Linked DNA regions of Homo sapiens. The protein of the gene in region 1 purifies or fractionates together with the protein of each later gene. This does not show direct contact. Each region holds a gene or a part of one and is shown on either strand. Other genes may lie near its edges.

The links. Proteins that work in one complex are often made in the same cells at the same time.
Region 2: the proteins of MALT1 (region 1) and HECTD4 purify together in Homo sapiens (affinity purification with western blotting, with the first as the bait; one study listed by BioGRID). This does not show direct contact.

What each region holds. Positions count from the first base shown.
Region 1 is NC_000018.10:58,730,465-58,733,964, reverse strand, and holds part of MALT1 (mucosa-associated lymphoid tissue lymphoma translocation protein 1), read right to left. Parts: intron 569-3,500; coding exon 391-568; intron 84-390; exon of another isoform or gene 1-83. UniProt on the Homo sapiens protein: Protease that enhances BCL10-induced activation: acts via formation of CBM complexes that channel adaptive and innate immune signaling downstream of CARD domain-containing proteins (CARD9, CARD11 and CARD14) to activate NF-kappa-B and MAP kinase p38 pathways which stimulate expression of genes encoding pro-inflammatory cytokines and chemokines.
Region 2 is NC_000012.12:112,249,932-112,253,431, reverse strand, and holds part of HECTD4 (probable E3 ubiquitin-protein ligase HECTD4), read left to right. Parts: intron 1-873; coding exon of another isoform or gene 874-903; coding exon 904-1,008; intron 1,009-2,297; coding exon 2,298-2,461; intron 2,462-3,054; coding exon 3,055-3,288; intron 3,289-3,500.

The DNA.
Region 1 (3,500 bases):
CGGCTACTCATTCCATGTCTGGAAGACCAGGACTGACTAGTGAGCAGAGATCCCAACTCCATGGGTGTTGGTTTTGTTAATTCCTGAGGGAATAACTATAGTGATTATTAAAGTCATCTAAAGGCATTCTGGAGAGTTGAATCCCCTGTAGTGTGAGTAAATGCCCATGCCCTTTAGTTCTTCATTTGTGTTCTATAGCAAATATGAAGAGTTAAAATAATTAGATATACATGGAGTAAATGTATTTTCCTCTAGTTTTGTTCTTCCAGTTTCAATGTATAAACTAAAATTCACAAACGCAAATGGCTTTTAGCATTTCACAGGTTTCTCTAGTTTGTCATGGTCGATATTTAACTCCAACAATTCTTTAATAAAGATTAGAAAACTTACCTTTTCCTACACATATCCAATAAGAACACATTAAGTCCAGTTTCTTTTTCTTGCATCAATTTCAGTATATTTTGTACACACAGACAATTTTCAGACCTATATGGATTTGGAGCATCAACGGGGACCATGAAGCTGTTCCCAAAATTTTCATAACCATGTCCTGCATAATATAATAACCCTGAAAAGAGGAAAAATAAGAGAGAGATAGATGTCAATTCTAAATGCACTCTGAACATACAGACTGCATAACTTTTTGTAGAAAAACCTTGACTTTAATTTTCTTCAGGTTGATGTGAGCATATGTAAGAAATACCCAATTATAAATATAGACAATGTTATTTTGCATTTAAAATTATTGGCAACAGGCCAGGCATGACGGCTCACACCTATAATCCCAGCACTTTGGGAGGCCGAGGCAGGCAGATCACTTGAGGTCAGGGGTTCGAAACCAGCCTGGCCAACGTGGTGAAACCCCATCTCTCCTAAAAATACAAAAATTGGCTGGGCGTGGTGGTGGGCACCTGTAATCCCAGCTACTTGGGAGACTGAGGCAGGAGAATCACTTGAACCTTGGAGGTGGAGATTGCTGTAAGCTGAGATCATGCCACTGTACTCCACCCTGGGCGACAGAGCAAAACTCTGTCTCAAAATAAATAAATAAATAAATAAATTACCAACAGTCTGCACTTAAAATTTGCATTTCAAGACAATATCAAAATGCTGTCTGAAGTATATCCTAATTTATAAAATATATTTGTAACCAATAGTATAATATAAAATACAATTTTATGTTATGATATATAAAAAAGAATGCAGCTAGGATTTCTCTCCTGACTCATTTGTCTCCTCCATGAAGCTAGGAGTTCTGTTAGGGCAGAGATAGTCTTACATTTATTTATTTGTGTGTTCCTGGCATAGAGAGCAGGAGCTTAGTAAGTATTTAACGGATGAACAAACACAATTCAGATGAATAGCAACTGCAATATGAAGTCAAGAAACTGCAGGTATTACCATAAACAGTTAAGGGTTATTAAAATATATAGTTTTATAATCAGAGATGGGAAATCTGACTTCGCAGATTGCTATTTTTTCTTTTTGCTATGAGATATAAATATCAATCTTCCATCTAGAGTCTTTTGACTCAATAATCTAAAATTTGGGATAGTTTTAGGACTCAACAGATGAATCATATTTCCTTACTGAGAAGTGATACTATAAAAACTAACCCAAACAACTCAATGTTTTCTTGAAATTTGTTTTGGCTGTAAAAAACAACAAAAATATCAGTCTGAACTTCTTCATAAAAGTACTGGACAAAACACTTTTGAAGATATCCTCCCCTCTGCTTGCAATATCTGGAGCCCACTGATTTTGCTCTCTCAATATTCTGGATTTAATGATTTCTTTACAGGGTATTTTAAAGCAAATAGTAAAAGCCATTTAGACAGGGAACCAAAAGTAGCTAATCCATTGTAATTATGGCCCCGACTCCTAGCAGAGAATGCGGCTTTGAGAATTAAAGACAATTTGCTTCATGTGGTCCTACAGGACAAAATCCAGGTCGTCTGCTTTTTCTGAATTTCGATTAAAATGAGAAAAATGGTTCTTTCAAATACGTTTCAGCTAAAATGAGAAAATGGATATACCCATTTTCAAGTGTGGGTTTATATTACAGCTCATGTGTGCACTGGAAGTTATCATGTAGGCACTGAGAGAAACAAAAAAGAAGGACAAAGTTCCTGACCTCTAAGCAGGAGATCAGGAGATTCATGTATCTCCATACATGAATTCACACGATTCACACGTTTATGTTATCAAGCAACAATGAAAGTCATCACATAATTAAATGCCATAAATCATGTTAGTGGGACAACCACCATGTACGTATGAAATGAGTAAAGTAGAGAGGAATATCAGTATGAAGTGAAACAACAGGGGATGGTCTTAAGAGAGGGAATGGCTAGAAATTTGCAAAGGCAGAGAGAGAGCGAGGTAGATTATGGGCAGGAGAACAGAAATAAACACGGATTGGACCTGGAATGAAAGCTAACAGAAAAGAGACTAGCCTAGCAAAAAACTAAATTACTGTTGTGAATGAAAATAAGACTGCACACACAGGGAATTTTAAAAAGGAGTGCACAGATAGGGTTTTAAAAATAATGACCAAAAGAATGGATTTAATTCAATAAACCACGAAGATCAGGTAAAGTGAAAAGACAACCCACACAATGGGAGAAAATATTTGCAAATCATTTATCTGATAAGGACAGCTTGTATCCAGAATAAAGAACTCTTCCACTCATCAATAAAAAGACTAATGACGGCCAGGCGCGGAGGCTCAAGCCTGTAATCCCAGCACTTTGGGAGGCCAAGGTGGGTGGATCACCTGAGGTCAGGAGTTCAAGACCAGCCTGGCCAACATGGTGAAACCCCGTTTCTACTAAAAATACAAAAATCCAGCTAAGTGTGGTGGTGGGAGCCTGTAATCCCAGCTACTTGGGAGGCTAAGGCAGGAGAATCGCTTGAACCTGGGAGGCAGAGGTTGCAGTAAGCTGAGATCGTGCCACTAGCACTCCAGCCTGGGCAACAGGGCAAGACTCCATCTCAAAAAAAAAAGACTAATGACTTGATTTAAAAATAGGCAAAGGATCTGATGCTTCTCCAAAGAGGATATATGAGTGGCAAATATGCACATGAAAAGATGCTCAACATCATTAGCCACTAGTTCCAAGTCATTTTAAACTCACCAGGATGGCTACAATAAAAAAGACAGACAAGAACAAGTGTTGGCAAGGATGCAGAGAAATTGGAACCCTCATTCATTTCTGGTGGCACAAATGTAAAATGGTGTAAGAACTTTGGAAAGAGTTTTGCAGTTCCTCAAAAAGTTAAATATAGATTACCATATGACCCAGGAATTTCACTTCCAGGTACATACCGAAGAGAAATGGAAACTACGTCCACACAAGAATGTGTACACAAATGCTCACAGCAGTATTATTAATCATGTCCAAAAATGTCCATGAGATGATAAATGGATAAACAAAATATAATCATATAATAGAATATTATCTAGCCCTAAAATAATGAAGTTCTAGTACATGCTACAA
Region 2 (3,500 bases), on another chromosome or scaffold:
AAATTATGGCCAGGTGCAGCTGCTCACGCCTATAGTCCCAGCACTTTGGGAGGCTGTGGCGGGCAGATCACCTGAGGTCGGGAGTTTGAGACCAGCCTGGCCAACATGATGAAACCCTGTCTCTACTAAAAATACAAAAATTAGCCGGGCGTGGTGGTGTGTGTCTGTCATGCCAGCTACTCAGGAGGCTGAGACAGGAGAATCGCTTAAACCCAGGAGGTGGAGGTTGCAGTGAGTCAAGATTGCGCCATTGCACTGCAGTCTGGGTGACAGAACGAAACTCCATTACAAAAAAAAAAAGAGAGAAATTATGCTCAAGGCCGAGCAAGGTGGCTCACGCCTGTAATCCCAGCACTTTGGGAGGCTGAGGTGGACAGACTGCTTGAGCCCAAGAATTTGAGACCAGCGTGGGCAACATGGTGAGACCTTGTCTCTACAAAAAAAAAATAAAAAAATTAGCTGGGCATGGTTCTGCACACTTGTAGTTCCAGCTATTCAGGAGGCTGAAGTGGGAGGATTGCTTGAGCCTGGGAGATTGAGACTGCAGTGAGCCATGATTGTGCCACTGCACTCCAGCCCGGGTGACAGAGTAAGACCTTGTCTCAAAAAAAAAAAAAAAAATTATTTTCAAGATTTGATTAACCTTTACCTTGATCTTGCTAATGGGCAACTGTGGCCCATTTCACAGATGCCTCATCCCAAAGGCGACCTCATCAGGAGAGACACTTAAAGGACTGGTTGTCTAAATGAGAGGGAATAGAATTTGAATCAAAAAGCAAATGAGAAAAGGAGTGAAATATTGCTGTGGTCCTTTTTGAAAGTAAACCTCTGAAATTCATTGCTCTTTTGAAATTGTGTATCTTGTTTTTAAAGTGCATTTCCCCCCCTTCCTTAAATTTTAAGGTGGAAGGAGATACAGTCACCTTCTCCTTTGAAATGAGAAGTGGCCGTGAACACAACACTCCTGATAAAGCCATGTGGGGCTTTGCTTGCACAGTTCGCGCTCAGGTACTTGAATCTAACCACTGCCGTGGACAAAATGTACTATCTGCTATGTGCCTTGATTACATACAGCATATTTGCCTTGGAAACAGGGCAGAATATGAGTCACTCTTTCATCTTTCTCTTCTAGTTGGCACTAGTCAACTACTAGCAGTTAGTAGTACTTTTACAGAATAAAACTAGCCATGACCTAAAATCAACTCAGCAGCACAGAAATAAATCTATTGATTGGAGCTCCCTCTTCAAAGTTTGGGGAGGTGACCTGACCCCAGCATCTTTCCACAGGGCAAAGAGGACTCAATAGAACTTAATAGAAATAAGCACTTAGATCCTGGGTTTTAAGAGTAGTTAAGCATCCGGCTGGGCGTGGTGGCTCACACCTGTAATCCCAGCACTTTGGGAGGCTGAGGCAGGTGAATCAGCTGAGGTCAGGAGTTCGAGATCAGCCTGGCCAACTTGGTGAAACCCCGTCTCTACTAAAAATACAAAAATTAGCCAGATGTGGTGGTGGGCACCTGTAGTCCTAGCTATTCGAGAGGCTGAGGGAGGAGAATCGCTTGAACCAGGAGGCAGAGATTGCAGTGAGCTGAGATCATGCCACTGTACTCCAGCCTGGGTGATAGAGTGAGACTCCGTCTCAAAAATTAAAAAACAAACAAACAAACAAAAAACAGAGTACTTAAGCATCCTACTTACCCCTCCAGTTGCCTGATTCCGAAAACGTATTTTAGACTTTGAGGTTTCTTAAGCTTAACCAAGCTAAGACTCTCCAGAGTGGCATTAACTGCTAGAATGTAAGCTCCGTGAGAGCAGGGATCTTCATTTCATTCTCTGATGTATCTCAGGCACCTAGAACAATGGCTGGCACACAGAGGACACCCAGTAAATATTTCTTGAATGAATTCACTGCAGTCATTGACAACATCACAGTTTGAGCACAGGGTGGAAGTGAAAAAACAAAATAGTGATTTATACTTAGGTGGGCACAACAGAGAGGAAGCTATCAAAGAATCAGGCTTCTTTATTTCATTTGTACTATTTATTTGATTTGTACTATTGTATATGGGGTCTGATCAACTATTTTCTCTCCAGAAATGTGTTGAGACTTCACTCTGGTCATTCCAGTGCCACCATCTAGTCATGATTTGGGTGCTGTACCTGTGTCCCCTAGCAGTGATACTCGATGCTGCTCTGTAGAACCCTGTGGTTGGGGACAGTGCAGTGTGGGGCAGCACAGGTAGCAGCCTCTGCCAGTGTACACTGACCAGTGTGGTTTACCCCTGTCTGCATTGTAGGAGTCTTCGGAGGATGTCTCAGGAGGCTTGCCCTTTCTGGTAGACCTGGCTTTAGGTCTGTCTGTGTTAGCTTGTTCCATGTTAAGAATCCTGTACAATGGACCAGAAATTACCAAAGAAGAAGAAGCCTGTCAGGAGCTATTGCGGTCCAAACTTTTACAAAGGTAACAAAAAGGTTGAAATTGAGCTAGTGTTGCCTGCAAAGGAAAAAGGACTTTATGTGGAAAAATCCTTTTGGTACATTTCCCAGGTGATTGTGCCTACTGCCTGGCAATCTCATGGGTGTCATTGTGTCTAAGAAAAATAAGATGAAAATTACACCATAGTGCTTTCTGGCCCTTACTTTACTAAATTTAAAATTACATCTTTGAACTGCATAAGCTTTTCTCCAACACAATTATTGTCTAATTAAATTGAATGATCCCAAGAGGATGGGTGGATGTGTGATAAAGCAAACACAGCAAATGTTTATTGTACAATCTAGACAAGTGTGTCTGTGGATATTAACCATGTCATTCTTTCAGCTTTTCTGTACATTTAAAAGTTTTAATGATTAAATATTGGGGGGGAGCTAGATCCCCAAAGATGGGCTTTCATACAATGCTCACTTGTCTTTAGCTTCTGGAGAAGGTTTGATGAGTAATTACTTAACACAGAATGTGATCCTTCATATGTTTGATGTATCTGCAAACATCCAATAGCTTTCCAATACTCTTGTTGAGAGAGGAAGTGAAGAGCCTCTTTTCTGTCTGCTCAGGTGCCAGTGGCAGGTGGAGGCCAATGGCGTGATCTCCCCTGCCCTTACTCCGAGCCCCTCTCCACTGCCTCTGACCATAGAGGAAGACAGAGAATTCACCTACCCCTCTGATGTCCTCGTGCCTCCTGTTGGAAACTACTTTGATCTGCCTCGGATCAGACTGCCTCCAGGAATCATGATAAAGCTCAGGGAAATTTCTGGGCGTGCTAGACCTCAATTTAGACCAAGTATAAAGTATGTTGCTGTGTAGTGTTTTACTTTTCCCAATGGGAAAAAAAAGTTTAAACAATTGAAATGGGTATATTTCTTCTGTGGTCTAGTAAATGAAACTTTAATTTTATGTTTACTCCATGAATGTTAAAATTAACTGAGTCTAGAGGGCCCACCAGGCAGTATTCCAGACTAGGGGCTCTCAAAATTTGGCCCACCAGTCAGCAGCATTGGCA